2 separate regions of the Homo sapiens genome follow, and region 2 is linked to region 1. The links come from fine-mapping of genetic effects on gene expression. A gene starts in region 1. The other region holds a variant in brackets. All regions are shown on one strand. Distances are from middle to middle.

Region 1 (4,401 bases):
CTAAAAAGAAACATTTTCAACCTTCTGATTGGCAGGCGGATTTTTCTCTACGTTTCAAAGTCATTCAAACTTAACACAGCTTGCAGATTTCCTAGTACACTGAAGGTGCTTAACGCATTGATTCCTGACAGGATAATTTCCTGGACAGATGGAATTTGGGATGGGAAGGACACTAATATAACTAGGGTACCATTCAAGAATTGTTTAGATGATCTTCTTAATATTACCTTTGAAACTGAAGGAACTAGAACACAGACCATAGTAAATTGTGTTTTAATTACTCCTTCTCCCAGTAAACTTTAGGATTTTTTTACTTTAAGATTGTCACTGGCTTTACTTGGTGGTGGCCCCAGTTCTGACTATAGTAGGTCAGCATGTGGAGTCATTATAGACAGCCTAAATCTATACAGCTTAGAGGAAGACAAAATAAATATATCTTACTCTTTTTTAATTCAATAGTGATTATTCAATCATCTCTCCCTTTTCCAAACTCACAAAACAGTTGCTTATTTTCTGACACTTATAATATCAACCTGTTTTTAAAAGAATTATGTATGCTTTTATATTTATTGCTATAATTTTATTGTTACTACATCTTTTATTATTACTGTAATTAGAATAAAGAGAACTTTATTATTTAAAATGAGAGCTGTGTCTCATAAATATTTGTATTCACTGTGCCCCTCCCCCCACCACCCATCTCACCAAAAAATTTAAAAAATAAAAATAAGGTAACAACCCAGAGGGCAGCCCAATGCCAGGGCTCTAGGCTTCCAATAAGTTTTTGTTGAATTAAATAGATCATTTCCCATTTATAAGCATGACATCATTCTTATACACCAGCCTTACTTTATTATATCCACACACCAATTTCAATGACGTCAAATTCACTTTCTAATTCACTTTCAGCTCTTCTTCTCCTCAAGGTTGTTTCTTTTCTCCCTAGAAAGGGTATTGCGTGGTCCCGTGCAAGGTAAGACTTGGGAGCAAACCCTGCATTCGGAAGCGTTGCGATGTGATATACTAATGAGGAAGTCAGGCGCTAAGCCCTAAGGGTTTCTTATTTCTCCACATTAGCCCACCACTGAGAAGGGAGAACCGGGGAAAGGCGACTGACCTGGCACGTTGGACCCTGTCCGCTTTGGTCCCGGCCACTTTGATCTCACGCGTCTGCCTAATCAAGTTCATCTACCGCCGCGATTGCCCTGATTCAAAGAACAACATTAAATGGTTTGATTATCGGATGGTCATTTCCCTCTTCCCTCCACCCCTGATCTAATTTCTAAACGCCAGTCTCTCGCCTCCCTCTCTAAACTTCCCATCAAAAGAGAATTAGCTCTTCTTCCTTCTTACCCTCGTTTGATGTGCAAATTTCCTTCTCTTTGCACATTTTTCTCGCAGTGGCGGGGGGAGGTGGGGGAGGAGGGCAACTGAAGGACCTCAAAGCCGGGGATCTAACTCAGATCTGCAAACTGCGACTCTAAAGGGTTAATGAGCAACTTGCACCCGCCACCTGGCCCTCTCAGAGGCGTCTTGCTAGAGCCATTGAATTACAGACCGGTTTGTATTTAATACTGAATATGACTTGTGTGCACAGTCAGCGAGTATTGGCATAAAGGAGAGGGGCAAAAAGTGCTTTTGCAGAGCCTATCACCCCTCGGCTCTGTAAAGTATTTCAGATCCGGATAATTCAACCCTTACTGCCAGGCAAGGGCACCCAAGTTCCCAGAGTTCCTGCTGCCGCCTGCATTTATTAAAGTCGTCTGCTATAACGCTCGCTGGTAGCCTTCACCCCGAAGGTGAGCCGGGCCAGCCGAGCGACTAAGCAAGGGAGGGGCGGGGTGAAGAGTGTCAAAGGCCCCCCTTCATGTACACAAACACACCCCCTCCCAGCCCCTCCCAGCGCTTTGAAATCCCATCCCGGCTTTGTTGTCTCCCTCCCAAGGGGCCGGAATGCTCCGGGCCCGCGGTATAAAGGCAGCCGCGGTGGCGGTGGCGGCGCAGAGCTCTGTGCTCCCTGCAGTCAGGACTCTGGGACCGCAGGGGGCTCCCGGACCCTGACTCTGCAGCCGAACCGGCACGGTTTCGTGGGGACCCAGGCTTGCAAAGTGACGGTCATTTTCTCTTTCTTTCTCCCTCTTGAGTCCTTCTGAGATGATGGCTCTGGGCGCAGCGGGAGCTACCCGGGTCTTTGTCGCGATGGTAGCGGCGGCTCTCGGCGGCCACCCTCTGCTGGGAGTGAGCGCCACCTTGAACTCGGTTCTCAATTCCAACGCTATCAAGAACCTGCCCCCACCGCTGGGCGGCGCTGCGGGGCACCCAGGCTCTGCAGTCAGCGCCGCGCCGGGAATCCTGTACCCGGGCGGGAATAAGTACCAGACCATTGACAACTACCAGGTGAGAGGGGTCGGGCACTCAGAGGATGCTCTGACCTTGAAAGGGTCCTATCTGGAGACGAGGGAGTAGAACGTGCTGAATGTGTGCGGTTCAGGGAGCATTTGGTAACCCTGCATTTGGGAGCAGTGGGCAGTAACAGGTTTTGGAGAGGTGGACAGATAAGGACTGTGATCAGCGCCCGGGTCCAAGAGGGCGGGTACCTGGACGTCTGGGTGCCTCACCCTCTCCCCGAACCCTTCCCACAGCCGTACCCGTGCGCAGAGGACGAGGAGTGCGGCACTGATGAGTACTGCGCTAGTCCCACCCGCGGAGGGGACGCAGGCGTGCAAATCTGTCTCGCCTGCAGGAAGCGCCGAAAACGCTGCATGCGTCACGCTATGTGCTGCCCCGGGAATTACTGCAAAAATGGTGAGTCCTGAAAGCTCCCTTTCACACTAAAACTGTCCAGCCTTTGAGCGTCTATGAATTGGGCGGGGGCGGGGGGTTGGGGGGGGTGGGGGGAGAAATCTCCGCCCTGAGAACACTGCGGCGCCACCTGCAAATGGGTGTTCAGCATGCAGGATTCCGCTGAAGTATCTTCATTGCAAGTGTTTAATCGGGAAGAAGAGAGAAGTTGGGAGGTCTCTGAGGTCCTTATCTTCCTCCGTGTCCCTCAATGATTCAATACAACGGTTCACCTCGTAGTGGACTCTTCCATAAAAATTTGTCTGGGGAGAACCTTGAGGTCAATTGAGAAGGGGGATGATGAGGAGGACGATGGGATCATACAGATATCAAAGAAACCAGCTTTGGCGTTCAGCTGTCCTTTTCATTTTTCTTATTGTGATTCTCACAGTTTTGCCAGACTGGCCTCGCCTTCTGATTTTTGCTGAAACTGTTGTCAGCCAGAGGACTGATTTATCTGCATTGGCCATTTTTAAGAGAGATCTTGGTACCCTCACAACTTGACTTCTCCATCCTTCCCCCTCCCTCTACCCTCTGCTGCCTTAATATAAGTACTCCTCCCCCCAACCACAGATCCACTAACTTTTAATTTTTCAAAAGGTGGATTTAGACAGCTAAAGAGGTCTCCAGAAATAAGCTAACAGGGCGACGACCCTCCTTAGGACCCAGCAGTACTCCAGGATGAACTAAGTAAATCTCTGTAATATAGAAATTACACAGTAAAGTAACTGGCCGGTGAGATTGCAATGTTCCAGGCAGCTGGAATTGCATTTGCTTAACTTAGTCTGGTAGGACCCATATAGCACCAGGGGCAGAGAAGTTATTTTTAAGAACATTTTTAAAGTGACTGAGTTTCTTTTTCTTACCCCAAAGGTAATATTAAAATGGGCAGAAATCTCACTTGCCCCTACCACAGTTGGTGGGAAAGTATTTTAAATGGCTATACTGGGGATATTACCTATGACTGACTGTATACAGTATACACATTGGTGCTTCTGTCCATCTGGAGAGTTTTGCATTAACAGTAAAGAGGAAGTTTGGCTTGTGTTTAAAATGATGTCACTGCAATGAAGTATCTCAAGTTGATGCTGGCATAACAGACTGCCACTGTCACAGCTGTTAGCAGTAATGCATTACAACCCTGAAGTTAATCACTATTTCCTGCTTCCTTAGGAATATGTGTGTCTTCTGATCAAAATCATTTCCGAGGAGAAATTGAGGAAACCATCACTGAAAGCTTTGGTAATGATCATAGCACCTTGGATGGGTATTCCAGAAGAACCACCTTGTCTTCAAAAATGTATCACACCAAAGGTAAGGATGTTAAGACTCATTCTTAGCACATCAGAAGTGTCTTTTGAATTATTTTAGTGAAACGATGCAGGTTTAACAGTAACTATGTACTTTTTTCCTACTGTCTTCTCCTTCGTAGGACAAGAAGGTTCTGTTTGTCTCCGGTCATCAGACTGTGCCTCAGGATTGTGTTGTGCTAGACACTTCTGGTCCAAGATCTGTAAACCTGTCCTGAAAGAAGGTCAAGTGTGTACCAAGCATAGGAGA
Region 2 (4,401 bases), 32 kb before region 1:
AATGCTTGGTAGGCAAGCTCTAAAATAGGATTATTTTTCTCTCCTGCCTACTTCTGTAAGTCTGTGCCTTTTTCGATTGTAGTGGGCTGTTGAGAGGAAGACACTAAGTACATGAAATGTGTTGTGTTGAACTATTCTTTCAGCCCTTTCAGTAAGTGAGATTTAACTATTCCATTCATAAAGACAGAGAATTCCTTAACTTGATCCTTGAATGCTTCAGAAAACCCAATGTAATGGCAATCATGTAACATTTAGCTAGCAGGACAGTGATCTCTGGGTTAAATTTTGGCAAAGGAATATAGTGAAATGAGAAAAAAAAAATAAAGCCATATTACAGAAATTAATTTTTTATACAATTTTCATTCCATTTCTGCACCTCAGAGGTTCGTTTGAAGATTCTACAACCAGATTTTACACAGCATGTGTGGTAGAAGCTTTTGCCTATCTGCATTCCAAAGGAATCATTTACAGGGACCTCAAGCCAGAAAATCTCATCCTAGATCACCGAGGTTATGCCAAACTGGTCAGTGCATTTCATACGTGCTTTCTGCCCTGCAGATTAAAAATATTTGTTTATAAAACTGTGTTCATTTGCTAATATGAAATCTGAGTTTTCCTTTTCAATGTTGTAACTTTCTTAAAAGCAGATTTTAGCATTACACTTTTCAACTGAATGTTCTTTCAAATGATGCATCAGTTATGAAAAATTAAGTTGGCTAAGTTTGAATTAACAATACTCTGGCAAAAGATGCTTTTATAAGCATGAGAAAACACACTTGCTGGCATGTGTTTACATGCCCAGAAGTCCTTTTCTCCAGTCAGCTTTTTGCCATTCATAAGCAATGGGTTTTTATATTATGGAAAACCATAAATCATTTTAATATTTTAGATTTAAGAATAATGCTAATGGAAAAAAATGTGCTTTACAGGCAATGCTAGCCAGGTTATGTAATAGTAATAATAATAATGGTCAAAAGCTGTAAAGATTTACCATAGAAGAGAAGTTCTTTTATTTACAAATGCACAACTTTTGTTGGATCTGTTAACAGCTTGATTCCATTTTTAAAGTTTTCAGAATTGTTATTCAGCATGTGGTTTTTAGAGAAATCAAATCAGTGGCAGTTTTTTATTTGTAGTTTCAACCAAATCGTTTTAGAAAAAATATATTTTCTGCAGTCGACACTCTTCCTTCAAAAGAGTTCCAGAAAAATGAAGAATACATTATAATTTTATTTCTGTTTATGCTTACTAAGGGCAGAGTCATTGGTCCCAAAACTATCTTACTCACTTCCTGCAAACATAAAATAGCTTTTCAAATAATTAATACTAAATGAATTGTCGCCTTCATTAAATCCAGCAGAAATCATGTATATTCTGGGAAAGATGTTAAGTAGGCCCAACTGGTCGTTAACAATTTTTAGGTACAGAAGAGATTCTGTGTTTACACTCCAACCTCCATTAGCATAAAAGAAGAAAAAATGAAAACTATATTCGGAAAGGAAGATTTACCTTTATTTTTAATGATGTGAATTTTATGCTATACTCAGGTGTCAACTTTTGCCATTAAAACTGAGGTGCATCAGGGAGACTGTCTTTGCAATATAGACTATTCTTTTTGGAAGACAGAACTATAAAAACATACATGTTTTTAAATTATTATCATCATCAGTGTGCTTCAAAATAACTTATTACTTTAAAACTTAATCATAAGGAGCTTAAGTATCTTGTTTTTCTCTCTTTGTAAGGTTGATTTTGGCTTTGCAAAGAAAATAGGATTTGGAAAGAAAACATGGACTTTTTGTGGGACTCCAGAGTATGTAGCCCCAGAGATCATCCTGAACAAAGGCCATGACATTTCAGCCGACTACTGGTCACTGGGAATCCTAATGTATGAACTCCTGACTGGCAGGTATGGATATTGATAGGGAACTGCTGATAAAAATAGACCAGCATGCAGCTACACACTCCTGCTTTTGTCACTTGGATTAGACCATCTTAAAGTACTTTTCACCATATCTTGGTACCACAGTTTAATTAGTTATACAGATGACCAGGAATTCATAATGTAAGGTATAAAATAGTCCAGGCTAGGGCAACCACCTGAACACTAACTTTTGGTCTCATTATTGCTACTTCTTTTTTACATATGTGAATGTGGAAGGATATAATGTCCTTCTGTGAGCTATCTTAGCCCAGTCATTTAGCCAGCAATGAAACAGGGGAGATGATAATCATATAAAAATATCTAGGGTCAATTTTCTATAGAAGTAAGAGGACCTGTTAGCAACTGTTATATCTAAATGAAAGGTGACTGCTTTGTACATCTTTCCTGTAATGTTATTATCATCAACTCAAATAGGCACTAGGGACACCACAAGGTATAAAACA[A/G]ACTTTAAGATCCTCAAGGACCCATATTAAAAGAACAACAAATACACTACCATGACATGTGCTAAAACAGTGAGTGACAGGGGTGTTATGACCTACAGATTTCAGGACAGGGATGGGTTCGTAAAGAGGCTTTTGAAGAATGAATATAAGGCAGCTGTGTCTTGAATGAAGAGTAGGACTTAGATATAGAGAGCAAGAAAAGGGTATTCCAGGCAAATAGGCATGGCTTAAAGAGAAAGGCAATAATCGTCACAGACATGGAGAAGGTTCATGTAAAAAAAACAGGAACAGTCATCTTTTGACGATCATGATTGCTGCACTTGAGTGTTTGGACTCCATCTACAGAGGGAATCATTGAGATTTTCTGACAAAGGTTGAGTGATGTGTGTTGTGGTATTTAAGGAAAAACAAGTTGGCAGTAATAAGCAAATTGGAAGAGGAATAGGAAGCTAGTTTGAAGATTGTTGCAGTAATTTAGTTCTAGGACACTGAGAGCCTAGAGTAGGGCAAGGGCAATGGAAAAAAAGAGTAATTGTGAGGCAGGATGTGAAGAATTACTTAAGAGGACTTAGTCACTACAGTGAACATGAGAGGAAGACTGAGGACTTTGAGCACAGGGTACTCTGTGAGGATTCAGTGCATACATGAAACACTTAGAAGAGTGTTTCGCACATAGTAAGCATTCCATGAATGTTAGCAGCTGCTACTACTACAACAACGACAGTCATTGCCAGAAATAGTTGTGTTTTGATTTTATTTTTATTTATGGGTATTTTACATTATTACCCATAAAGTTTCTCTATTGACTTCAAATAAATTATGTGTGACATAATCCAATTTTGTTCAGTGTGGATTGTTCAATTTTGATCTTGTGGATGGAGGTAAATTATTTTAAAAGTATGACCAATTAAGTAGACCTGTAAAGATATGAAAAATTTGGACAAAGTAGAAGGTTAAATTTAACATATGTGTGTGGATGGATAGATAGGTAAATAGGCAGAGAGATAGATAAAAAGGTAATCTTTCTAGTGTGCTTAGAATTGCTATAAGAACCAATTATATAATAAATAGAAGAAAACTAAATATTAACTATTTTTGAGGAAGTAAAATATTCACCTATAATAACTAGACTAAAATATTAAACATGACAACTTATATTTCTCCTTAAATGTTTAGACATTTCTCTACAATCATTGTTTATTCATTAAGTAATAAGGTGAAAATGATTAAAACCTTAATCTTAAAAACTGGCATATACTAAACTGTAAGAAATAATTAATAACAGAAAAACCTTTAATCCTTTAAAGTAGAAATTGCACAGGTTACAATATCTGACTGGAATATAATAAAACTTGGAATTAATAACAAAGATTTAAAATAAAAAGTCTAAATACTTGAAAATTTAAAAAGCATTTTTCTAAATAACCTCAAGGACATAGAAATTACAGAATAGCAGAGCAGCAATAAAAATAAAGCACTATAAGTCACAATTTATGTTGTATTTTCAAAACCAAACTTAATTTTTTTACCATAAATATATATATCGAAACATTATGATTAAACATACCTAAACTTAATATTCATTTCAAGAAATAACAAGACAGAAAGAATTTTGGTCAAAGACAACAGCATTAAAAAAATCTTTACTTTTCCTTTTCTACCCAAAGAGATGATGGTGGTGGTAAGAGACGGTGGCCAGGGGTGGGGGTGGGAGAAGGCAAGAATAAAACAAGTAGGATGATCTTTAGTTACAAATAAAGTTCCACAAAACACACCTGCCAAACACTATGAAGTATGGCATGTGACTAGGAATGATGCTTGGACCACAAGCATGACTCCAAAGTATTTTGGTCCTGAATGTCATATCTAATGATCTTCGATAGTAATAATGACATTTAGAGGACTGGCTGGACCTTGAAAAAGCAAAGACTGTTCATGCAGAGACCTAATTAAGCACTACAGAATGAAAGAGGAACTGAGGTGAAGGAAGATTCATACAAATGTACCAATTCT

Alleles and levels. Positions count from the first base shown, and alleles are read on the strand shown. Sizes are in standard deviations (SD) of each study's normalised expression.
For the expression in sigmoid colon of the gene that starts at base 2,001 in region 1, allele G in region 2 goes with a higher level than allele A (moderate effect, 0.46 SD a copy in GTEx).

Evidence for each region. PIP is the estimated chance that this variant, and not a neighbour inherited with it, causes the effect. A credible set is the group of variants that fine-mapping cannot tell apart.
Region 2: its variant is the best candidate, but not a certain one, in a credible set for the expression of DKK1 in sigmoid colon (GTEx, PIP 0.54).

What each region holds. Positions count from the first base shown.
Region 1 is chr10:52,312,281-52,316,681 of GRCh38, forward strand. It overlaps DKK1 (dickkopf Wnt signaling pathway inhibitor 1), which reads left to right and starts at 2,001. Exons shown (of 4, transcript NM_012242.4): 1 at 2,001-2,397; 2 at 2,643-2,805; 3 at 4,015-4,155; 4 at 4,274-4,401. The coding sequence starts at 2,155. PRKG1-AS1 (PRKG1 antisense RNA 1) reads right to left here and starts at 1,848. Exons shown (of 6, transcript NR_038277.1): 1 at 1,354-1,848; 2 at 1,118-1,205.
Region 2 is chr10:52,280,408-52,284,808 of GRCh38, forward strand. PRKG1 (protein kinase cGMP-dependent 1) reads left to right here. Exons shown (of 18, transcript NM_006258.4): 13 at 382-523; 14 at 1,746-1,909. Among named protein-coding and RNA genes, the nearest start is that of PRKG1-AS1, 32 kb to the right of the region's middle. The variant A/G (reference allele first, on the strand shown) is at 2,389.